7 linked regions of the Homo sapiens genome follow. Changing the gene in region 2 together with the main gene of any one other region gives a genetic interaction. Each region holds a gene or a part of one and is shown on either strand. Other genes may lie near its edges.

What was found.
Region 1: changes in MBTPS2 (region 2) and KIF14 together harm fitness more than expected from each alone (negative genetic interaction), as found in Homo sapiens cells (one large-scale study listed by BioGRID).
Region 3: changes in MBTPS2 (region 2) and ATP6AP1 together harm fitness more than expected from each alone (negative genetic interaction), as found in Homo sapiens cells (one large-scale study listed by BioGRID).
Region 4: changes in MBTPS2 (region 2) and FDPS together harm fitness less than expected from each alone (positive genetic interaction), as found in Homo sapiens cells (one large-scale study listed by BioGRID).
Region 5: changes in MBTPS2 (region 2) and MPHOSPH6 together harm fitness less than expected from each alone (positive genetic interaction), as found in Homo sapiens cells (one large-scale study listed by BioGRID).
Region 6: changes in MBTPS2 (region 2) and PSMD4 together harm fitness less than expected from each alone (positive genetic interaction), as found in Homo sapiens cells (one large-scale study listed by BioGRID).
Region 7: changes in MBTPS2 (region 2) and SLC35A1 together harm fitness more than expected from each alone (negative genetic interaction), as found in Homo sapiens cells (one large-scale study listed by BioGRID).

Annotation. Positions count from the first base shown.
Region 1 is NC_000001.11:200,614,252-200,617,751, reverse strand, and holds part of KIF14 (kinesin-like protein KIF14), read left to right. Parts: coding exon 1-140; intron 141-2,142; coding exon 2,143-2,397; intron 2,398-3,346; coding exon 3,347-3,434; intron 3,435-3,500. UniProt on the Homo sapiens protein: Microtubule motor protein that binds to microtubules with high affinity through each tubulin heterodimer and has an ATPase activity. Plays a role in many processes like cell division, cytokinesis and also in cell proliferation and apoptosis.
Region 2 is NC_000023.11:21,863,617-21,867,116, forward strand, and holds part of MBTPS2 (membrane-bound transcription factor site-2 protease), read left to right. Parts: intron 1-3,500. UniProt on the Homo sapiens protein: Zinc metalloprotease that mediates intramembrane proteolysis of proteins such as ATF6, ATF6B, SREBF1/SREBP1 and SREBF2/SREBP2.
Region 3 is NC_000023.11:154,431,677-154,434,346, forward strand, and holds part of ATP6AP1 (V-type proton ATPase subunit S1 precursor), read left to right. Parts: intron 1-153; coding exon 154-228; intron 229-589; coding exon 590-783; intron 784-1,254; coding exon 1,255-1,295; intron 1,296-1,958; coding exon 1,959-2,044; intron 2,045-2,531; coding exon 2,532-2,670. UniProt on the Homo sapiens protein: Accessory subunit of the proton-transporting vacuolar (V)-ATPase protein pump, which is required for luminal acidification of secretory vesicles.
Region 4 is NC_000001.11:155,315,366-155,318,865, reverse strand, and holds part of FDPS (farnesyl pyrophosphate synthase), read right to left. Parts: intron 2,013-3,500; exon of another isoform or gene 926-2,012; coding exon 845-925; intron 698-844; coding exon 575-697; exon of another isoform or gene 470-574; intron 202-469; coding exon 113-201; intron 11-112; coding exon 1-10. UniProt on the Homo sapiens protein: Key enzyme in isoprenoid biosynthesis which catalyzes the formation of farnesyl diphosphate (FPP), a precursor for several classes of essential metabolites including sterols, dolichols, carotenoids, and ubiquinones.
Region 5 is NC_000016.10:82,160,225-82,163,724, reverse strand, and holds part of MPHOSPH6 (M-phase phosphoprotein 6), read left to right. Parts: intron 1-3,500. UniProt on the Homo sapiens protein: RNA-binding protein that associates with the RNA exosome complex. Involved in the 3'-processing of the 7S pre-RNA to the mature 5.8S rRNA and play a role in recruiting the RNA exosome complex to pre-rRNA; this function may include C1D.
Region 6 is NC_000001.11:151,264,734-151,267,979, forward strand, and holds the end of PSMD4 (26S proteasome non-ATPase regulatory subunit 4), read left to right. Parts: intron 1-98; coding exon 99-185; intron 186-432; coding exon 433-501; intron 502-660; coding exon 661-876; intron 877-1,270; coding exon 1,271-1,379; coding exon of another isoform or gene 1,380-1,388; intron 1,389-1,574; coding exon 1,575-1,706; intron 1,707-1,786; coding exon 1,787-1,854; intron 1,855-2,439; coding exon 2,440-2,610; 3' UTR 2,611-2,746; downstream 2,747-3,246. UniProt on the Homo sapiens protein: Component of the 26S proteasome, a multiprotein complex involved in the ATP-dependent degradation of ubiquitinated proteins.
Region 7 is NC_000006.12:87,507,474-87,510,973, reverse strand, and holds part of SLC35A1 (CMP-sialic acid transporter), read right to left. Parts: intron 2,555-3,500; coding exon 2,378-2,554; intron 1,934-2,377; coding exon 1,799-1,933; intron 1-1,798. UniProt on the Homo sapiens protein: Transports CMP-sialic acid from the cytosol into the Golgi apparatus, functioning as an antiporter that exchanges CMP-sialic acid for CMP. Binds both CMP-sialic acid and free CMP, but has higher affinity for free CMP.

The sequences.
Region 1 (3,500 bases), on a different chromosome or scaffold from region 2:
AAACAGGAAAGATCCGCAGAAAATACAATTCTTCCCGAAGAAGAAACTGTAGTTCAGAACACCTCTGCAGGAAAAGACCCCTTAAAAGTAGAGAATAGTCAAGTGACAGTGGCAGTACGCGTAAGACCTTTCACCAAGAGGTATGTGATGCCTTTTAAAATCTAAAGCCAAGCAGTTACATGTAAGGTACCTTTAATTCCTCTCTGCCTTTGGAAGGTCAGTGTATTCGTGCATCTTCAAACTTGTTGGCAATACTTTTATATAGAAAGAACTTTTAGGTCTAGTTGTAGTGTGTGTTGATAATTTTTGATCACTGACTATAAAATTAAAAAATTGAATCACCATATTTTGTATATTGAAGTTTCTCTAGATATATTGCTTTTAAAAAGTCTGAATAAGTCACTTAGGTCTCTAATGAAATCTGCTTTCAGATCTGCAATATATGCTGGAATGTTATACCTATCCCTTAAAAAGAGCCATAACAGGCCAGGTGTGGTGGGTCACGCCTGTAATCCCATTGCTTTGGGAGGTCAAGGCAGGCAGATCACTTGAGGCCAGGGGTTTGAGACCAGCCTGGCCAATATGGTGATACCCTGTCTCTACTAAAAATACAAAAATTAGCTGGGCATGGTGTTGCACACCTGTAATCCCAGCTACTCGGGAGGCTGAGGCAGGAGAATCACTTGAACCCGGGAGGCAGAGGCTGCATTGAGCTGACATCAGGCCACTGCACTCCAGCCTGGGCGACAGAACGAGACTGTCTCAAAAAAAAGAAGAGCCATAACAAATTACTGGTTCCCTAAAGAGGTCCTTTCAAAACCCTTTCCAGAGTGGTGATTATCATCATCATTGTCTCCGATTACTATATAGTAGTTATAAATGCAGTGATACATTAGATTTGATTTTGATGGCAAAAAATCTCTCTCTAAAAGTGGTTGTGGGTGGGGAAGACACAGATTAAAGATAAGGTTGGAAAAGATGGACATGACAAAATGTGAATGTGACAAAATGTAATTGTTTTAAAATATTTTAATGTAGTTGTTTAAAATATTTTAAGGGACAGTGAAAAACTTCACAGAGTTAGTAGTGTTTAACTTGAAGCTGTGTATCTAAGCAAGTTAGAAGAGGATTTGGTGACCACTGCATCAGGGCAGGAACCTCCAGTTTGAACCTAAGGGGTCAGTAGTTAAAGGCAAGTTATACAGTACTGTAGAATCTTTTTCGTGCAAATGGGTTAGTATTAAGAGGGAGAACTGAGGGTGAGTTGGTTTGAGAGAATTGGAATGTCTAATAGAGCCTCAAGAACCATGATAGGAAGAGAAACAATAGAAAGAGCTGGTAGGGACAAAATGCAAGATGGATGACTATACTGAACTTAGTAAGGGACCAAGTGCCTGATTCCAAACTCATCAGACAAGCCTTGAAAGCAGGGCCAGGGTAGAGTACTTGTCAAATTGATGAGGCAGGTGTTTTTTCCAGAATAAATTCTGATTTAAAGCAGTCTCAGAGTCAGGGATGGAGCGGGGAGGGAGTGTATATCTGGAGCCAGACAAAGAGTGATGATGTTTTTCTGTAGATCTAAAGTAAATGAAAGATTTCCACCTAAGTCTCAAAGGGAAAAAGGATATACAGAAAGATTCATGATTTTAAGGGAGAGAATCTAGAGGAAGGAGGAGAGATCTTTAGTAGCCAAGAGAGACTTATGATTGAAACTTACAGTCAACTGAGTTTGTTAAAATTAGATATTTGTATTTTATGCCAGCTTTATTTAGATTGGTACCCCCCCAAATTTGTATAATAAAGATGTAGATTTGGATGAAGAGTATAGGTAGATTATAGTAGGTGGGATGGGAAAAGGTATAGTTCAAGAGAAAAAAAAAAGAGGAAAAAATCTTGTAAAAGTAGGATAGGTTTTCTGGAGGAATCTGGGATTTTCCCTTTGGTGGCACTGGAGCCTCAGGAAATATATTTTGGAAACCCACTAGAATTATGTTTGCTTATCTGCATTTTCCACATAAAACTACAGAATTATCTTGCCTTGGAAGATTGTTTAAATAGTTTTGAGGTATTTATTATGTTCTGTGAGAATAATACCCTTGATCATTTTAGTTACTTGATTTTTTTCTTTGTGCTTCTTTCAAGAGAGAAGATTGAAAAAGCATCCCAGGTAGTCTTCATGAGTGGGAAAGAAATAACTGTGGAACACCCTGACACGAAACAAGTTTATAATTTTATTTATGATGTTTCATTCTGGTCTTTTGATGAATGTCATCCTCACTACGCTAGCCAGACAACTGTCTATGAGAAGCTAGCAGCACCACTCCTAGAAAGAGCCTTCGAAGGCTTCAATACCTGTCTTTTTGCTTATGGTCAGACTGGCTCTGGAAAATCATATACGTAAGTTGTATTGGAAATGCAATTATCCAGAAGTGTTTAAATATACTTTTGTGAGAAGTGGCATAGGGGTGATAGAAAGAATATAGTTTTGAAATCACACAGATCTTGGCCCAAATCTCATCCATTTTATATACCAGTTCTGCAAACTTGGGCAATTTACTTAGCCTCTGGGCTTCAGTTTATACATTTACCTTGATACAATTCATCTTGTAATTATCATTGGCCCCATTTTACTGTACTTTATATATTTTACATAAACTAAGGCCTAGAGAGGTTATCTTTTAAGTATTTTGGTGAGAATTAAAAGTAAGGCATCTAAGCTAGATGTGATGGCACACACCTGTAGTCTCAGCTACTTGGGAAGCTGAGGTAGGAGGATTGCTTAAGTGCAGGAGTTCGAGTCCAGCCTGGGCAACTTAGTCCCCATCTCTTAAGAAAAAAGGGTGGAGGGGCATCTGATAAATGGTAGCTATGATAATAATACCTGTCCTAGAAAGAAATACTCAGCATTTTAACAGTAGCTAACATTTGAGTTCTTTTTTTTTTTTTTTTTTTTTTTTTTTTGTAGCAAGGTTTGTTGTGAAGAGCGAAAGAACAGAGCTTCCACAGTCCACAGCGTGGAGGGGTCCCAAGCGGGTTGCCCAACATTTGAGTTCTTACTATATTCCAGACACTGTGCTAAAGACTTTGCTTATATTCTTTCACAACAATTCTCTGAATTAGATAGTTGTATTATTCCTGTTTTACAGTAGAGGAAATTGAAGTTTAGTGAGGTTAAATATCTTGGAGTCAAGATTTGGACTCAGGCAGATTTGACTCCAGAGTCCAGATTCTTAATTATGAGATTCAGTGAACTTGCTTCCTACTCCCTTCCCAGCCTATTTCCCCAAAAAGAATTTTAAAGAAAGAATTAGTTTTATTTCCCCCTTATTCATAATGTATTTTTCAGGATGATGGGATTTAGTGAAGAACCAGGAATAATTCCAAGATTTTGTGAAGATCTTTTTTCTCAAGTAGCCAGAAAACAAACCCAAGAGGTATGTTCTTATAATACCTGCAAGCTTCTTTTCAGAGTAGAAAATAGTCAAATCAAGTTCAAATCA
Region 2 (3,500 bases):
TACTGAGACTTCTTTTTCCTTAAAATTGACACCTAATGTCCAAAACTAAGACTAAAGAAGGTTATATATATCCCCACCAATAATTGGGTCCACGCACCTCTTTCAGAGCTTATTAAATGGTATAGAACTAACTAGTCCCGCTATCCCAAACATCACCTAGCCCATTAACTTCTCATTCCCAGTTGTGAGTTGTCAGCCTAGTAGACAGCTGAACAGCTTTGCCCTGCCGTCTTTCCCAGGCAAGGGGGCAAGGTTAGGGGTGGGGAGGAGATGCTTATCTTGCCCTGAATTCAAGACAGGACAAATTCAAAGATCTGGAATTGTCTCTAAAAAGAAGAGTTTAGTATCCCTGCTAAATGTTTGCTGAGCTGTGAGCTCACCGTGGTGTAGCCATCAAAGTGGAAGACAACGTGGGAAACCTGTGTGTTCCTCAAAGTTTAGGGATGTACATAAATTATGTATTTAGAGGGAGAGAGAAATATGTGTGTACCCTCTGCCTACTTTATTGGTTTTAAATTTAGGAATATAATTTCATTGCTTCTAAAATGTCTTCCCACTTCCATGTAAAAAGTCCAGGGTGTCATTTAAATCTAGTTTTTTGTTTTGTTTTGTTTTGTTTTTTGTTTGTTTGTTTGAGACGGAGTTTTGCTCTTGTTGCCCAGGCTGGAGTGCAATGGCACGATCTTGGCTCACTGCAACCTCCGCCTCCTGAGTTCAAGTGGTTCTCCTGCCTCAGCCTCCGAAGTAGCTGGGATTACAGGCACCTGCCACCACACCCAGCTAATTTTTTATGTTTTTTTAGAGATGGGGTTTCACCACGTTGGCCAGGCTGGTCTCGAACTCCTGACCACAGGTGATCCACCCGCCTCAGCCTCCCAATAAATCTAGTTTTATAATGCTACTTTTAAAGAGTTGCATATATAGGCCAGGTGTGGTGACTCACGCCTTTAATCCCAACACTTTGGGAGGCTGAGGTGGGCAGGTTACTTGAGCTCAGAAGTTTGAGACCAGCCTGGGCAACATGGCAAGATTCCGTCTCTACTAAAAATACAAAAAATTAGCTGAGCATGGTGGTGCATGCCTGTGGTCCCAGCTACTCAGGAGGCTGAGGTGGGAGGATGGCTTGAGCCTGGGGGGCAGAGGTTGCAGTGAGCAGAGATTGTACCACTGCACTCCAGCTGGATGACAGAGTGAGAACTCTGTTTCAAAAGCAAAATAAGTTGTATATGTAATAGGTTTTTTTCTTTTTTTCTTTCTTTCTTTCTTTTTTTTTTTTTTTTCTGAGACAGGATATCACCCTGTCACCCAGGCTGAAGGGCAGTGGTACAATCACCGCTCACTGCAGCCTCGACCTCCTGGGTTCAAGTGATCATCCCACTTCTCAGTCTCCCAAGTCGCTGGCACCACAGGTGTGCACCACCACACCCAGCTAATTTTTGTATTTTTTGTAGAGAGGCGGGTCTTGCCATGTTGCCCAGGCTGGTCTCAAACTCCTGGGTTCAAGAGATACAACCACCTCGGCCTCCCAAAGTGCTGGGATTACAGGCATGAGCTAGAGCTACCACACGGGGCTATTTCTTTAAAAAAAAAAAAATGAAATATATACTGATTTTGAAAAGAAAAAGCCACTAAACATCTGTCTGAAATTTGGTGGGGAAAAAAGAGAGATGAGATGAGATACTTCCTGAGCACACTGTAAATGAAGATGTTTAAATTTTGAATTATGGTGTATAGAATTTTTAGAAGAGGGATTAAACAATACCTGCTATCTGGTTCCAAGTGAAGAGTAGATTGCTTTAAAAAAATTCTCTATGCTTTGTTGCTAAAAATTCCTTTATAAATAGTGGAAGTAAAATTTGACCATTCTGTTTCTATACTTAAATGTTTTTAAATCCTTCTTAAATATTGAAAACCCTGTTCTTATTTGTATAAGCCAGTTGTAAGTTTATTTGAGGGCAAAGTAAAAAACATTGGTGATAAAAGTGATGTTGTGATTATAGTAAGCTGGAATTTAAACTTAGAACACAGTGTAAGCCTTGCCAAATTGATAGTTTACATTCTTTCAGCTATAACTACTGTGAGTTATTCAAGGAATATTGAGTTGTTATTTTACCTATTCAGTCATCTGGTGACCTGTAAATCATTTCTGTGTGTTTAGAGAATTAAGGTAGTTGTGGTTTTTTTTTATTATTATTTGCAAACCACACTAAGCATAAGTAGGGCTTGATTGGGGTAGCCCTTAGCCCCCGCTTAATAATAATCACCAGCTTCAAGTCTATGGGTATCTTGCTGCCTTGATGACAACTATAGATTTTCTTCTCCCTTGACCCATGATTTTTGTTTGTTTGTTTGTTTTGTTTTTTTGTTTCTTTGAGACAGAGTATCTTTCTGTCACCCAGGCTGGTCTCAAACTCCTGGTCTCAAGTGATCTGCCCACCTCAGCCTCCCAAAATGCTGGGATTACAGGCATGAGCCACCGTGCCCGGCCCCATGATATTTTTAAACCCTGAGTCTCCCATATTCTGATTTTTCTACTGTTGCCCCAGTCTCATTGCTTAGTATATAAACCAGAATAAAATTGATCCTCAATTCCATCTAAGTCCTACTGTTTCTTGGCTGTTGTTTTATTAAAATCATGAAGAAAGCAAAAAAGGCATTCCATCACAACTATTGAAAAGTGTTCTAGAAGTTACAGTCATTGCTATAAGACCAAACAGGAAGGAAAAGATGAGGTATGAATGTTGGAGGAGATAAATGATTATTATTAGCAAATAATGGAAAATCCAAGAGAATAAAGACTAAGACATCCTAAATGGAAAGTTCAGTTTGGTGATTAATTACAAAGTAAATATACAAAAATAAATGTAGTATTCCTGTGTATCTGAAAGAAACAGATCATGTAATAGGAAGAAAAGATCTCATTCAGAAAGTAATGTGACATATAAAAAATAAAAAACTAACATTTTAAAAGAAGTACACAGGGCCTATATAGAGAAACTACAAATCTGTACTGAGAGATGTAGAAGATTTCAGTAAACAGATGTCGTGTTCCTATGTCAGAAATGTAAAATTATGGATTTACCCCTAGTTATTGCAGTCATTGCAGTGACATTAGAAATCCTAATGTGGGCCAGGCGTAGTGGCTCACACCTGTAATCCTAGCGCTTTGGGAGGCCGAGGTGGGCGGATCACTTGAGGTCAGGAGTTCAAAACCAGTCTGGCCAACATGGTGAAACCCTGTCTCTACTAAAACTACAAAAAAATTAGCCGGGCGTGGTGGTGGGCGCCTGTAATCCCAGCTACTCGGGAGGCTGAGGCAGGTGAATCACTTGAACCCAGGAGGCAGAGGTTGCAGTTAGCTGAGATCTCGCCACTGGGCAACAGAGCGTGACTCTGTCTCAAAAAAAAAAAAAAAGAAAAAAAGAAAAAAAATCCTAATTTGAATAATATTTGGTGGTTGTCAAAATGATTCTCAAATTTATCAGAAAGGATAAGGGGAG
Region 3 (2,670 bases), about 130 Mb from region 2:
CCCACCAACACACAGTTGTGCTCCACCATACTGAACCTGACTCTCAGTGAGACTTTGCTGGCCCTGAGAATGCACGGGGAAGGTGGCTGTCCCCTGCCTTGGCCCCCATCACTTGCCAAACCTCCTCAGATGTCTCCCCTATTTCCCTAATAGCTGAGCATTGAGGATTTCACAGCATATGGCGGTGTGTTTGGAAACAAGCAGGACAGCGCCTTTTCTAACCTAGAGGTGAGAGTCCTCTCCCAGCCAGGGGCCATGGGGGACATTCTGTGCTCCTTCTCCCAGCATAAGAACTGTACTCTGACCTCATATCAGGGTTACTTGGGTCTGAGTCTCTTCTGGGTCAACCATCCCCCCCAAAAACAACAACAACAACAAAAGCCACCTCATACTCTTAGGGAGCAGAGACGCTGGCTTTGGGGTAGAAAGGCCTGGGGCCTGAATGTCAGGGGCTGGGGTGTGGGCCATTTTCTTGGTGAGCCTTTATGGGTATGGCTTGCCAGAGGAGAGCTGCCAGAGAGGTGTGGGGGGCTGGGCCAGGCCCACTGGCCCCTGGCTAACTCACCTTTTGCCTCTCCCCTGTCCCCAGAATGCCCTGGACCTGGCCCCCTCCTCACTGGTGCTTCCTGCCGTCGACTGGTATGCAGTCAGCACTCTGACCACTTACCTGCAGGAGAAGCTCGGGGCCAGCCCCTTGCATGTGGACCTGGCCACCCTGCGGGAGCTGAAGCTCAATGCCAGCCTCCCTGCTCTGCTGCTCATTCGCCTGCCCTACACAGCCAGGTACTGCCCGCATGGCCCAGCCACCAGCCTCGGGGCCCAGAGAGCAGCAAGGCCCTGGGCTATGGCATGTGGTGGCACCGTTTGGCTAAAGATGCCAGTACTCCCCACCCCCTCACAGCCCTTCCAGAAGGTGCCCTGTGTGGCCAGAAGAGGAGGGGAGGGCCTCTTCTGTGACTCAGGAGTTGGTGCCTAGCACTGAGCTGGGCCTCCAGAGATGAGGCAGATGTGAGCCCTGCGGGTGGGGAGCCTTCTCACCTAGCCAGGCCCTTGTCACAGAGCAGGTGGCCAGGACTTGAGTGTGACTGAGAAGCCTCGGGGTGGGATGGGCTTCCAGGAGGGGGCACTGAGGTAAGAGTGTGCAGGCTTGGTGCGTGGGGCTAGTGGGGAGGAGAAGCTGGGGTCGGGGAAGGGTAGTGGGCAGTGCAGGTCCAGGCCGCCTGAGGACTCTGGCGCTCTGTTTGTCTTCCATAGCTCTGGTCTGATGGCACCCAGGGAAGTCCTCACAGGCAACGGTGAGTAGAATCAGGGAGGATGCACGTCCTCATCTAGCCCTTGGGTGGGGGCCACAGAGAGAGCTGGCCTGCAGTTCCTCGGCCTCCTCACTCCCAGGGTGGCCCGCCTGCTTCTCGGGGCAGCTGGCAGTGGAGCAGGGAAATGCTGGCTCCCAGGACCAGCCAGGGACCACCTGACAGAAGACCCTGTCCAGCCAGACCCCACTTGGCAGAGGGGGGCGGCTCTCTGTGCTGGAGGCTGTGGAGCCAGTTTCTGTGCAGGCAGCGTGAATCCTAGAGTTATGGGTTTAATAAGACTGCAGACATTTGGAAAAACAATTCTGGGGACTCATCTATTTGCAATAAAGGACAGTCACTCCCCATGGAAAGGCAGTCGTGAACCTTTCATGGGTGGATGTGGAGTTTTCTGTATTGATATGTATTTTCTTATGTCACATAGGTAGGGCTTGGCATTAGGGAATCGATGACTGAAGCCACAGTTGTCTCTGGGGGAGGCTGGGAATGGGGGTGGGATGAGAAGTAGCTGCTCCTAAGGATCCTCAGTGGAAAGTAAACACACCACTTTCAGATGGTCTAGAAGGTTTCTAAAGCAGACAGTGGGGAGTGTTTCTTTATGCAGGGTGCCTGGTGACCTGAGTCTCTGCTCTCCTTGTTGACCCTCAGATGAGGTCATCGGGCAGGTCCTGAGCACACTCAAGTCCGAAGATGTCCCATACACAGCGGCCCTCACAGCGGTCCGCCCTTCCAGGGTATGTGCCCTTCCAGCAGGGGCTCTGGGGCGTGCAGGGAGAGGCAGTGTGGTGAGTCTGCTTGGAGGTGGGGAGTGTATGCCACAGGTAGGCTGCCCAGGAGGCCCAGCATAGGGGAAGCATGAGGCACAGAACCCCTGTGGTGTGACTATTTGGAGTGGCTGACTCTGGGGGCAGGGCTAGGATGAGCACTCAAGTCCTGCCTCCCCATTCCAGGGGCAGCTTTCCATCTCGTCCTGTGAGGCTTGTGGGTGGCAGACTTGGACACTAAGTCTAAATGACCCTAAGTTTGAGGGACTAGGAATGTCATCAGGGTTTAGGGGGCATCAGGGAAGGCTTCCTGGAGGAAAGGTCTCCTCTGGCTGATGGGACTTTGAGATAGTGGACAGGGTGTCCTGTTGGGAGGGGAAGGAGGGCACGACAATTGGGTTCAAGTGTGACACTCTCCCAGGGCTGCTGAAAGAAGGCTGGTTGGGTGTTTCTGCAGGTGGCCCGTGATGTAGCCGTGGTGGCCGGAGGGCTAGGTCGCCAGCTGCTACAAAAACAGCCAGTATCACCTGTGATCCATCCTCCTGTGAGTTACAATGACACCGCTCCCCGGATCCTGTTCTGGGCCCAAAACTTCT
Region 4 (3,500 bases), on a different chromosome or scaffold from region 2:
AGATTTGTACCTGAGTAAGGGGAGAAGAGAAACTCCTCAGGAGGGCAATGCACATCCTGAGCCCTCCCTCGCTGTCCAGACATGGTTCGCGCTGTCCCTCACCTCCCCTCACCTCTTTTCAGTGAATCTGACAAGATCCACATTGCCCTGGGGGGCTGTGAGGAGGTCCAGGGTCTGCCCAATCTCAGTCTGATAGGAACTCTAAGCAAGACAAAGACGGTCCATGAGCCAGGCTTTCTCCAGATATGCGAAACCCTGGTATCCCAAGCCCAACATCCCATACCAGCTGACAACTGGGCAGAATCAGAAAGGCAACAGAAGGGGAGAAAGCCCCAAAACTTAAGGCCCATATTCATACACACAGTCCTTTATCACCCTTTCTTCCAATTACACAGGACAGAGAAGCCCTTTCTTGCCACTACCACAACCCCACTTCCCAACACCCTTCCTCGCTTTCTTTCCCTTCCAGGCACGCTGCAATCCTGTACCCTGAAACCAGCTAGATGAGCATGTCCTATAGAGGCCAAGGCTACCATGGGCACCCTCTGGGCATCGGGCCCTGTCTGCAATACACCTGCAGGAAGAGCTCGATCAGGTTCAGGTAATAGGGCTGCTCCCGGCAATAGAGCTTCAGCAGGCGGTAGATACATGCTTCCAGGAGGTTAGCATCATTGATGGCATCCAAACCCACGCCCGGCTGTCATGACAGACAGAAAAACAAGCAATCAATCTCTAGTCTCGGTTCATACTAAGAGCCATCACCCCAACACCTCAACCAGGCCATATATAACCACCTCCCTGTGGCCTGTCCCCATACCCACTGCTATTTTCCTGCCCACATTACCTTCTGATACCAGCAGATCTGTCCCCGGCGGGTAAGGGATGAATCCATGATGTCATCTGCCACCAGGAAGAAAGCTTGCAGCTAGAAAGAGTGGAATAAGACCTGCAGGGCTCCTCATTACTGTTCCTTCTATCAGCAACAGAGCTGCTACTTTATATCTGTATATAGTTTTGCTTTTTTTTGGTAGGGGACAGAGTCTCACTATTATCCAGTGCAGTGGTGCAGTCACAGCTCACTGTAGCCTCTAACTCCCAGGCTCAAGTGATCCTCCCACTTCAGCTTCCTGAGTTCCTGAGACCATAGGCACATACCCCATGCCTGGCTATTTTTTTTTTTTAATTTATTTTTTGTAGAGACAGGGTCCCACTATGTTGCTCAGGCTGGTTTTGAACCCCTGGGTTCAAATGATCCTCCTGCCTCAGCCTCCCAAATTACTGGGATTACAGGCATGAGGCATCACAGCCGGCCAGAGCTGCTGCCTTTGACAGTCCCTATGAGCTGGGAAAGTCAGGATGGGGAGACAGAAGACTTCTGTGCTATGGAGACTTGGAAAGTGACATAACATGTTTGGCTCAGACTCCCCGCCTATAAAATGGAACTAAAACACTCTTGTTTTAGGTTAAGAAACTAGAACAGATCTTTGACATCTCTAATGAGCCCTAGATTATTCCTGGTGTCAGGGAGATTAGGAAACACCTTCATATACCGTACTCTATTCTTGCCAAAAACCTCAATGAATGCTTAAAGTAAGATCTATTCATGAAACTGACTTCACATTACTTCCTAAATAAAAGAAGGCTATTCCCACATTGCCCCCAGCACTGTGTTTGAACACCCTGGTGACTAGGAACACAGCCTTACCTAAAGCAGCTCCTTAGCAGTGCAGGTCTAATAAGGTGGAACTGAAATCTGACTTTGACCTATGAGTCTCAGACATCTTTAAACATCTTTAAACATTAACTAAGGGCTTACTCTTCTGAGTGCCCATCTGAAGGTACCTGAACGTGTCGGGTTTCCCACTAGACCATGATCTCCTTGGAAGCAGGGACAGTAACTTCCCCCTCTTAGCATTTGCAGAGCCTAGCACAGCATTAGGCCTGGAGTGAGAGTTTCCTAAACACTTGTCTGACAAAGAAATTAATAAAACACTCTAACATTCCCTGTGATACTTCTTGCAGTCAGTCAAACTATGTTTTGGTTCCTTAAATAGCTTTTCTTTTTTTTTTTTTTTGAGATAGAGTCTCACTCTATCACCCAAGCTGGAGTGCAGTGGCGCCATGTGGGTTCACTGTAACCTCCGCCTCCCAAATTCAAGCGATTCTCCTGCCTCAGCCTCCCAAGTAGCTGGGACTACAGGCACCTGCCACCACCAACTGCTAGGCCAGCTAATTTTTGTATTTTCATTCAGTAGAGACTGGGTTTTGCCATGTTGGCCAGGCTGGTCTTGAACTCCTGACCTCAAGTGATCCGCCTGCCTCGGCCTCCCAAAGTGCTGGGATTACAGGCGTGAGCCATCGTGTCTGACCATTAAATAGCTTTTCAAGACATGGTTTGGGTTGCTTTTTTAAAGAGACAAGGGTCTTGTCATGTTGCCCAAGTTGGACTTGAACTCCTGGGCTCAAGTGATCCTCCTGTCTCAACTCTTGAGAATCTAGGGATATAGGCACACACCAGCGCACCCAGCTCAAGACATGGTTTTTATTTTCATAACTTATTTCCTTTTTTTGTTTTTCCACTTCTAGATACATACCCAGGTTTTTGTTTTTGAGATGGAGTTTCACTCTCATTGTCCAGGCTGGAGTGCAATGGCGCAATCTCGGCTCACTGCAACCTCCGCCTCCCGGGTTCACGCGATTCTCCTGCCTCAGCCTCCCAAGTAGCTGGGATTACAGGCACGTGCCATCACACCCGGCTAATTTTTGTGTTTTTAGTAGAGACAAGGTTTCACCATGTTGGTCAGGCTGGTCTCGAACTCCTGACCTCACGTGATCCATCCACCTTGGCCTCCCAAAGTGCTGGGATTTTAAGTGTGAGCCAATGCACCCGGCCCTATACCCAGGTTTTAATTTTTATTATTATTTTCTTTTGAGACAGGATCTCACTCTGTCACCCAGGCTTGAGCAGAAGACATGGTTTGTGTGTTTTTTTTTTTTTGAGATGGAGTTTCGCTCTTGTTGCCCAGGCTGGAGTGCAATAGCGCGATCTTGGCTCACTGCAACCTCCGCCTCCCGGGTTCAAGCGATTTTCCTGCCTCAGCCTCCTGAGTAGCTGGGATTATAGGCATGTGCCTCCACGCCTGGCTAATTTTTTTTTTGTTTTTTGTTTTTTGTTTTTTTTTGAGACAGAGTCTCGCTCTTGTTGCCCAGGCTGGAGTGCAGTGGCACAATCTCAGCTCACTGCAAGCTCCGCCTCCCAGGTTCACGCCATTCTCCTACCTCAGCCTCCCAAATAGCTGGGACTACAGGCGCCTGCCACCATGCCCGGCTAATATTTTTTTTGTATTCTTAGTAGAGACGGGGTTTCACCATGTTAGCCAGGATGGTCTCGATCTCCTGACTTCATGATCCGCCCGCCTCAGCCTCCCAAAGTGCTGGGATTACAGGCATGAGCCACTGCGCCCAGCCTAATTTTGTATTTTCAGTAGAGATGGGGTTTC
Region 5 (3,500 bases), on a different chromosome or scaffold from region 2:
ACAGAGTTCATTAGGTTGAGCATTTTAAGGCAGGTCAGAAGTTTTTGTTTCTTCTTTTAAATTGTTACTACTTGTAATACCATCCATTTTAGCTAACATTTACTGAATCTATAGTGTGTACCAGGAACTGGGCTAAACACTTTACATCTGTAGTTATTGAATCTTCGTAGCAAACTTAGGAACTGCCTCCTATGATTCTGTCACTTTGTAGTTGAGGAACTGAGCTTAAGGGAGGGTAACTTGCCCAGCTTCACCCAGCTAGTCAGTGCTGAAGGCTGGGGTAGACAGTTTCTGGCCCACCCCTAAGCTTGGCTGGTGCCTGATCAACAATTTTGAATGAAGGAGTGTTGGATTTATTTCATCCATTAATTTAGCTGAATCCTTCTGGAAGCTATTTTTCATTTTTCCCTGATACTTTCCTCACCTTAGTAAGCTCTGTTGTATGGTAGTTTTACTTAAACTTTGGTCAAATGACTGAAGATGCTGCTTACTGTCTTGAGGCACATTTATGTGTTTCCATTCTGTACCTGATGTTTGGGCTTTGATTTGGAATGTTATATTCCCCTGTTCATTTGGCTGACCTCTGGACATTGTTTGAAGGTTAGATACCCTTCTCTAAAGATAGAAAGTATGTCCCACCAGGAGGGATCGGGAGAAGGTACTTTTTTTCTCTGCTTCTCAGAGGAAGCAAGATGTTGGTGAGGAGGGAGAAGATAGTGCCAGGGGCAGGGTCACAGGGAGGAAGGGACCTTTGCTGCTGGAGCTATAATTTACTTTTATGCCTTAAGTAAACTTGCCAAAGTGTTCCTTCCAGTTGTTTATTAAAGAGCAGGACTGTTTCTATCTTGTTTCCAGTATTTTTCCCCTAATACAGCATATTATTCCCAGAAAATGACCTTTACATTTCTTTCTGGGAAGGTAAATAATGCCTTTTTGCCATTACTCAGCATCCTGTTTATGTATAGGTGTGTATATCAGCTCAGGATGTTGGCAGGAGAAGATGACACTCTCAGACTGAGGAGAGACTATCAAGGTGTGGGTGGGGCATAGGGGGGCCCCTCGGGGCAGTGCAGCACCTCCTAGCATGTGTAGTGGGAGTGATTACCACCTGAGCTTGCAGAGTCAACGGGTGGGTGGGGAATAGCTGCTACCGAATCTGCAGATAAGTTGTGTAGAGAGAGCACCTTACAGGAGCTGCTACCTCCATTCACGGGTACGGCCAGCCCAAGGTCATCCTAGCAAGGGAGCCAGGTACCTGGCAGCAAAGGAGCCCTTCCGTGCATTACGTTCAAGTCAGCCTCCCAGGCCAGAGAAACAGGTGAAGACGGGAAGTAGGTCTGGAGGGGTGAATGGATGACATGTCCTTGGTATACGTGTTGTATTGAGTTGTTGTTTTTAACACTCTAAATAGGGAGATCATGGAATGGATTGGTTGATTAAGCACATGGGCTCTGAAGTCAGGCAGACCTGGGTTTGATGCCCAGCTCCGCCAGTTGTTTACTTGTCACCTTGGGTGAGTTACTTAACCTGTTTTGTGTCATTTGTGTATTGGGTATGATGATAGTACCTGTCCAGTACATTCCGAGAAGTAGATGAGGTAATATATGTAAAACAGTCACCATAACACCAGGCATAAAGCACAGTGATTGTCACCATTGTGTGTATTTCCTTATATCTGAATATATGAAGTACACCCATTCCTTTCTACTCACTTATGTTTGTGTATCCTTTTTTGCTAGTGTTGTCTTAACTATTCTGTGAATTTGGAGATTGCATGTGTCTGTGCTCTGAAAGTCTCGACTTTCCCATTTTTAATGTCAGCCGTATCAGTCTGTAATTCAGTGAAGATAATTAGGGCTATTCAGTGTTAACACTGCCTCACAGGGGACACTTTTAGCCAGTGGCTAGACCATGTAGGGGAATGATGATCTAGCTGCTGTGCCTCAACTTGGAACAACTGAAGGGCATTCCTGACTCCAGAGCTCTCATATGTGGCTGAGGCCTTAGTGTAGCCACATTGCCCATTATCTTCTCCCTCTGCCCAATCCTTCTTTCTCTGTTTTCCTAGAAGGGCATCTGCTGAACAACACTGCCTGCTAAGTTTTCTGCATATATGTCTGTCTCAGAGTCTGTTTCCAGGGAACCCGATATAGTGTGAATTCCTAGGAGTGAAATTTACCAGATGAAAGATTTTGCTATCTATTGCCTTATTGTTTTTTTCCCCAAGGATATGGTCCAGAAAGAGTGTGCAAGTATAGGCAGTTTAATTCCTCCTTTGCCGTAGCAAGTTGTTTAAGAAGTATTTTTGGCTATTGTACATCTTATACTTGTGTTTTGTGGTCTGTTTGGAGTCAGAAGCTATAGGGACCTGAAACTAACAAGTTAGCCTGCCACACTTTCACTGATGCTGGTGGAAGATAGGAACCTTCTGGGTCTGAGATGTAGGGGAGGGACAATAGCCTTTCCTTCCACCCATTTGAAGTTCATTAGTTGGGGTCCCTGTAACAAAAGACAGATTAACAAAGAGAAAGGTATACACTTTTATTTCACAAAAGTTTTAGGTGACACAGGAGCCTTCATAAGAAAATGAATACCGAAGAACTGGTTGAACCTGAGTGTTTTTATGTTAGCTTTGATGAAGAGTGGAAAGTTGTGAAGAAATATGATGGGAGCAAGGGGTATGAACGAAGAGTAATAAGCCAGGAGAAACTTAGCAAGTCTTTTGTTCAGATTCCTCTCTCTGTCCCTTCTTCTGAGATAAGGATGTTGCTTTCCTCTGAGTGTAGGGAGGGCACCTCTTATGTGAGATGCTTTTATGACCTGCTTCAGGGGACAGTCAGAAAATCCTACCTGCACGTCATTTTTCAGATTCCTCCAGTGTAAAATTTTCAGTATGCCAAGATGCCATATTTTGGGAGTAGTGTCTCCTGAACACCATCAGAAACAAAGGACTTACTGTACAGCAAGCAGCACAAGCATCAAGTTTGCGTCATTTCTCTTTTGTCCCCAACTCCTATGAGGGATGGCGTGAAGTGGCCCAGGTGGATGCTGTGCACCCAGTGGATTTGCATCATAGCTGAGATCTCCTGAGCTTAGAAAACTGGAACCTTGGATAACGGACCACAAGCAGACTTGCCTTCGGCCCCAAGAGAGGCATCTGTATTATGCTGGACAGTAAGCAAATCTGCCCTTCGCTTTAGAGGAAGACTGTTTTTCAAGGCTGCTCGCTATGCAGATATCCTTGCAAAGATAGTCCAGAGCAACCGGGCAGTTAGTGCCTCACTCAAAAAATGTGCAGGAATGTGAGACCCACTGAGAAGGGTTTTCTAACTGGAGTTTTGCCATGGTATTTGTGGCTTTAGGCAAGTCCAGCTTTTTCTGAGCAGTAGTTTCTCATCTGCGAAATTTATGAAATAATTTTGTGGGTGTGTTTTAGCCTGAAAATTATCCTCATTAATGAAAATTGGATAATTAAAATACAAAAAGAGGTAAGTTTTGAA
Region 6 (3,246 bases), on a different chromosome or scaffold from region 2:
GGTACAAAGAAACTGTAAGAAAAAGGGAACCGAGTGACAGAGGAAAGAGCTGAGTGATTCCTCTGGTTAACTCTGAGAACTTCCTCTCCCTTTACAAGCTGGCTCTGAAGCACCGACAAGGCAAGAATCACAAGATGCGCATCATTGCCTTTGTGGGAAGCCCAGTGGAGGACAATGAGAAGGATGTGAGTCCAAGTGGCAGCTGGGGAATGTGGGGAGCCCATGTTTGGGACTGAGGTCTTCCAGCCCTCAGGAGAACCTGGCAGAGGCATCAGGCTCATCACTTTGGGGAAAGGTGAATGTGGAGAATTCAGTGATTCTGTTGGAGGACCTTGGGGAGGTCAATAGATTTCTGTATGCTTTTATGCGGCGGGTCCTTTCCCCCCCTCGAGTATGGAACAGATTTCTTGATTTTTCTCCCCTTCTTCCCAGCTGGTGAAACTGGCTAAACGCCTCAAGAAGGAGAAAGTAAATGTTGACATTATCAATTTTGGGGAAGAGGTGAGTAGGGACTGATTGGAGGGCATTGACTTAATTTGGTCATAAACAGAATGGTCCTTAACCCTGAGGAGTGCGGGTACTGTGGCAGAGTAGTGCAGAAATGGGAAAGAACAGGGAGCAAGGCCTGAAGAAGGGCATCATGTGTTCTTTCCTCCCCAGGAGGTGAACACAGAAAAGCTGACAGCCTTTGTAAACACGTTGAATGGCAAAGATGGAACCGGTTCTCATCTGGTGACAGTGCCTCCTGGGCCCAGTTTGGCTGATGCTCTCATCAGTTCTCCGATTTTGGCTGGTGAAGGTGGTGCCATGCTGGGTCTTGGTGCCAGTGACTTTGAATTTGGAGTAGATCCCAGTGCTGATCCTGAGCTGGCCTTGGTGAGCAAATGTTGACCCCAGGTAGAGTCCAAAGGTCCCTCTTTGTTCTCTTCTGGCACACACATCACAGAGCTTCTATCAGGCTGGATAGTCCTAGACACTACCAATCACTCATTTTCCAAGACCTCCTTTTGCCGCCTCTTCCCTATAATGCTGTCTGATCTCTAGGGGCACCAGTGTCAGATGCTTTCTTGTTCACTTCTGATGAAAACCGAGGCTTCTCCCAAGTCCTTACTTTTTAATCCCGTACCACTGCTTATCCCTCCAGCTTCTTCTCTGTGTGATAAACCAGAAGCTGCCCCTTTATGTTCCTTTCCCACACCCCAACTGACTTTCCCAGCTCCCTGTAGGAGTGAGGGCAGGGGAGCCCTGATTATGCCCTGCCCTTCACCAGGCCCTTCGTGTATCTATGGAAGAGCAGCGGCAGCGGCAGGAGGAGGAGGCCCGGCGGGCAGCTGCAGCTTCTGCTGCTGAGGCCGGGATTGCTACGACTGGGACTGAAGGTGAAAGAGGTGGAATCCGAAGTCCTGGGACTGCGGGATGCTAAACATTGAAAGCTGGGTGTAGGCACTGCAGGGAGAGTGTGGAGGTCTGACAGGGTAGGAATATGTGGGAGGGCTGGGCTAGGAATGGCCTTGGAGGCTGGCCTGTGTGGATATGGCACCAATTCTACCCTGCTCCTCTTTTCCTTTTCCCAGACTCAGACGATGCCCTGCTGAAGATGACCATCAGCCAGCAAGAGTTTGGCCGCACTGGGCTTCCTGACCTAAGCAGTATGACTGAGGAAGAGCAGATTGCTTATGCCATGCAGATGTCCCTGCAGGGAGCAGGTGAGCCAGAGCCTGGGTGGTGCCTAGGCAGAGGTTGGGGTGAGGAAGTGTAACTGAACAGACTGACCTCTCTTCCTCAGAGTTTGGCCAGGCGGAATCAGCAGACATTGATGCCAGCTCAGCTATGGACACATCTGAGCCAGCCAAGGTGAGACCCAACCCTGCCCCCATCAGGTTTAAAGTCCTTGAATTTAGATCCTCATCCCTCTGGGGCTGGGAGTATTTCTACCATAGCTAAGTCCTTTGAGGAGCAGAGGGAAACACATGGATTTGCATTTCTTACATGTAAACCTTGCTAAGGTAGCAATGCTAATGGTCAGAGTTGGAGAAATGTCCTCTTGTTCTGTAATTTTCCTTTCTTGCTGGTGGGAGCAGCCTGGGCAGTTCTCTAGGATGTCTTCCCAGGAGGGAAAAAAGCGGGTCTGGGAAAAAGAAAAAGGAGAACTGGGTGTCTTGAGAGCAGGAAACCTCAATGTGATGGCATCTGTTTTTCTCCTCAGAGCTCAATTAACAGAGTTCTCAGCAGGCCCCTCTATTTGGTTAGTAATAACTGCATTCATGCTGTATAAAGGATTTTGCTGACTTGTCCTTTCCTTACGTCGACCAGAGGTGCCCAGATCCCCACACAGTCAGAAGGCAGGGGGCCTCTGGCAGCGGCATGCTCCTGTCCTTAACACCTGCTTACTTCCTGCCGCTCCATACCCTCCCTTGAGCTCACACTGCCTGTTTGCAGGAGGAGGATGATTACGACGTGATGCAGGACCCCGAGTTCCTTCAGAGTGTCCTAGAGAACCTCCCAGGTGTGGATCCCAACAATGAAGCCATTCGAAATGCTATGGGCTCCCTGGCCTCCCAGGCCACCAAGGACGGCAAGAAGGACAAGAAGGAGGAAGACAAGAAGTGAGACTGGAGGGAAAGGGTAGCTGAGTCTGCTTAGGGGACTGCATGGGAAGCACGGAATATAGGGTTAGATGTGTGTTATCTGTAACCATTACAGCCTAAATAAAGCTTGGCAACTTTTTTTCCTTTTTTGCTTCAAATATTGATGGTTTTGAGTGTGAGAGAGGGGAGGAGTCCCTGGCCTGAAGGAGAACCTTCCTTGTTGAGTTCTCTATGTCTCTGTTTCCACCTGTCTGGGCCTCCTAACGTGCTGGGATTACAGGCCCAGGAGCCAGGTTTCCATTTCTAATGAACGAAGACCTTATTTAAACCACCTTCTTGCCAATAACTTTTACTCTGCACTCACACAGCTGAACCCCAAGCATGGAATGATACTCAACCTTTTCAGTTTTTTCATGTGGACTTCTGAGGTTCAGCAAGTTTAGGTTATTTGGCCAAGGATATTTAGCTAATGAAGAGGCAGAACCAGGATCAAAATCCAAACTTGTCTCAGACCTGTCTCGCCAGGAGTTGAATCACCACCAAACAGTAGTTTCCCATTGGTCAGCTGCCTTCAGTGACTCTGCTCAGCCCTGCAAGTCAGTTCCTTGTAGCAACTACTATACCTTCCTCTACTCCCCGATCACTCTCAACAGAAGCC
Region 7 (3,500 bases), on a different chromosome or scaffold from region 2:
TCAAACCATTGATAATTTCTTAATCGGAGATGAGGCGATAATTTACTGAATAAAACTACATTTCCTACTAGTCTTAACCCTTTTTTCATCTTTTTTTTTTTTGAGACGGAGTTTCGCTTTTGTTGCCCAGGCTGGAGTGCAATGGCGCAATCTCGGCTCACCGCAACCTCTGCCTCCCAGGTCCAAGCAATTCTCCTTCCTCAGCCTCTCGAGTAGCCGGGAGGAGCATGCGCCACCGTGCCCAGCCAATTTTGTATTTTTAGTAGAGACAGGATTTCTCCACGTTGGTCAGGCTGGTCCCCAACCTCAGGTTATCACCCGCCTCAGCCTCCCAAAGTGCTGGGATTACAGACATGAGCCACCATGCCCGGCACCTTTTTTCATTTTAATCTTAAAAATCAGGATGCAAGAAACCAAATCATAACTTGTCCTAACTTGACAAATAAATATATTTATATGACATCAAGCTTTATTTTAGTTCACTCCTAACTAAAAAAGACCAGCTTTGCCTTCAAAAAAGGAGAAGGTAGGATAAAAACTTGTATCTAAACAGTTAACTGAAAGATTGCTAAGACATGCTAGTTGACCATCAGTAAGAACATTAAACAAAAGCATTTTCTACTGTTCCTATATATTTCTTATGAGCAATGGTATAAGGATTTTGTTGAACATAAAGATAGATCAGAATTACAGCTAAAAGTTCACCCAAATCAGGTAGAAAAACATCTAAGGGAAAGCCTATAAGTACCTGATACTGAAATGGTAAGTGGTTGGTAAGTAGTGTCAAACACTACTCTAAGCACTTCACCTGAAAACACCACTAGGCAATAGGTGATATTATTCCCATTTTACAGATGAAGAAAGTGTCACCCAGGGAATATAACTTCCCCAAGGCTGCACAGTTAAGAAATGGTACAGGCAAGATTTGCCACAGACTATACATGGTTTTCTAAAATTTCTACAACACTATTTCCATTTATATACAGGAGTCAATTTTAAAATGAAATGTAAATATAAGCCAGGTCTCTTTTACTTAATATATTTAACAGATATTCTTCATACATTGGTTTATATTATAATAATTGATCAGTAAAGAAAATTATTACACTATAAAAGCACCCTGAAATGTTAAGTCAATATCATTGCTTAAATAATTTAGAAGCCAAATTAATGCTGGGTGTGAGAGTTGGGAAAATTATATTAGGACTAACAAAGCAGTGGTACTGGAATGCCAGCTATATTAATGAGTTTTGTATTAATTACATATTGAATGAAACAAAGATACAAAAGACAAAATCTAGATTTTGATTGTTTTCAAAACCGTCTCACACCCAAATGCAAAGCAGTTGGAAAGTACAAGCTGAGGGAGGACTAAAAGATGTTTTCTACATTCTTCTAAATAATGAGCCAATATAGTTTAAACTGACTGCTGAAAATAATTTCCTAAAGTCTTTATATGTATTTCCTTGAGTACCTTCTCACATTCAGACACTCAAGTTGTCCTATATACAATACCTAAAAATACAGGGAGGCCTTGACTGCAAAAAAAGTCCCCTCACTTTCACATAGAACTAGCACCCCTCGTCTTAACCTCTAAGACCACCTAAACAACCAAAGTACTGCTTAGCCACATCCCACACAACTATGAACAGCTGTACTGGTGGAATAAACTGTAGTAACAAAGCTAGGAATTTCTGTAAACAGTATGACCAACTGCCACTTTTAAATAAGGGATTAAATGAATCAAGGAAATGGGAGGCTCTTCCATGTTAAAAACTCAACACAAACTAAGACATACTTATCTGTAATCCAAACAGCATTACTGAAGCAATGGTGGAAAGGACAATGGCCGCTGCTGCAGAAAAGCCTTTCATGATGTTGTCTGTGTACTTAACCACAACAGAAGTGTAGAGGCCACCAACACTTGCAAGAACTTGTATACAGAGAGAAATAAAATCTTATCACTCAAATAAATGAAACATTACATAATGGTGAGGCAATTTTCATCCCCAGAGATGCCATACTTTACCTAGGAAAAGGAAAATACTGTTTTCCTTAGAAGGAGCCATCTGAGAGTTTGTACTAAAATTGGTAGTTCCTATATAACACTGTTTTTCCAAAACAATGCCCAGAGGGCTATGTGGTCTATTAAATTTTACACATTTTTTGCTAATGTTAGATATTTTGGGGCATTGCTATCCCAAAGCAATTTTGCCTTCACAATCAAAACTAAGTCAACAAAATGAAAATTATATTCAAACTGGTATTTACAGTATCAAAGGATTAATTTCAAAATGTTATAACAGCTTAAAATGGACATCTAACTTAAAAAAAAAATAAAGGATCTACTAAGAACCTTTAATTCCTGGATACTTACAGATGACAAACCAGACATAATATGTGTAACCATAGAAAAATCCTTTTTCTTTAATTTCAGCTCCATCTGACAAGTAGACGCCAGCTAATGTCACAATAATCCCTGATAGATACATTTGAATGTTTCTCACCCAAAGAGAAGTATCTGAACTCTTTAAAACTTTTTCAAAATATACTCCTGAAAGAAAATTAGACATGCAAATATTAAAGATTACTATAAATTAACTTAAAATGTCTTTCATTTAGAACAATACCCTAGAGATATATAAAGTATATGATTTGGGGAACAAAACATACTTTACTTAAATGTGCATTTATTATGTAGGTTGTGTGACACATGACATACTGTACATTATAAATTTATGTTTTTACAGAGTATATAGAATAATAACTAATTGGGAAGTTTATAAGCTACATTTAACAGAAGGCTGTTAAATTAAGACAGTTTCTGCCTTTATTAGAGCAGTAAGACCACAAAAGCTCTCTGTACTACTTAATGCCAGTATGTCATTTGCTTTGGTCAGCTGAAAAACTACATTAAGAGTGAATTATCTTAATCACATCCCTGTAATATCTGCCTACTAATGAATACTCCTAATTCTGCAATATAATCTATAATCACCACTAGGAATCTTTTCAGAGTAACAACCAAAACTGAAGTAGAATTTGCTGTGTAAAGCCATTTTCCTTTAAAGCAGGGTTCCACAAGCCAAGTTCATACACAAGGTCAGAAGGATCATGAACTCCCCAACTGGATAATAAATTTTGTGTATATGTGCATTTTTCTGGAGTTGAAGGTCCATAGATTTTTTCAGATACTTCAAAGGAGTACATGATACCCCTCCCCAACAAAAGTCCCCTATCTCTGGATTTATGCTTAAAATGAATGCATATTTTACAAAGCCATTAAAGATTTTAGTTATAAATATCATGCTAGAGACTTAGGAACTGCCAATGAAGTACTTATCAACTAAAAAGTCTAACGAAAAACAAGATTATTTTTGATGAGTCTGTTGGAATGGGAACATAAAATAGCTATTCTTATTTTCACCTCTGATTTTACCTTCTGGGAGAAGCATTTATCCAGTGCTCAGTTACCGTAAACACAGAGAGATATTAAACCA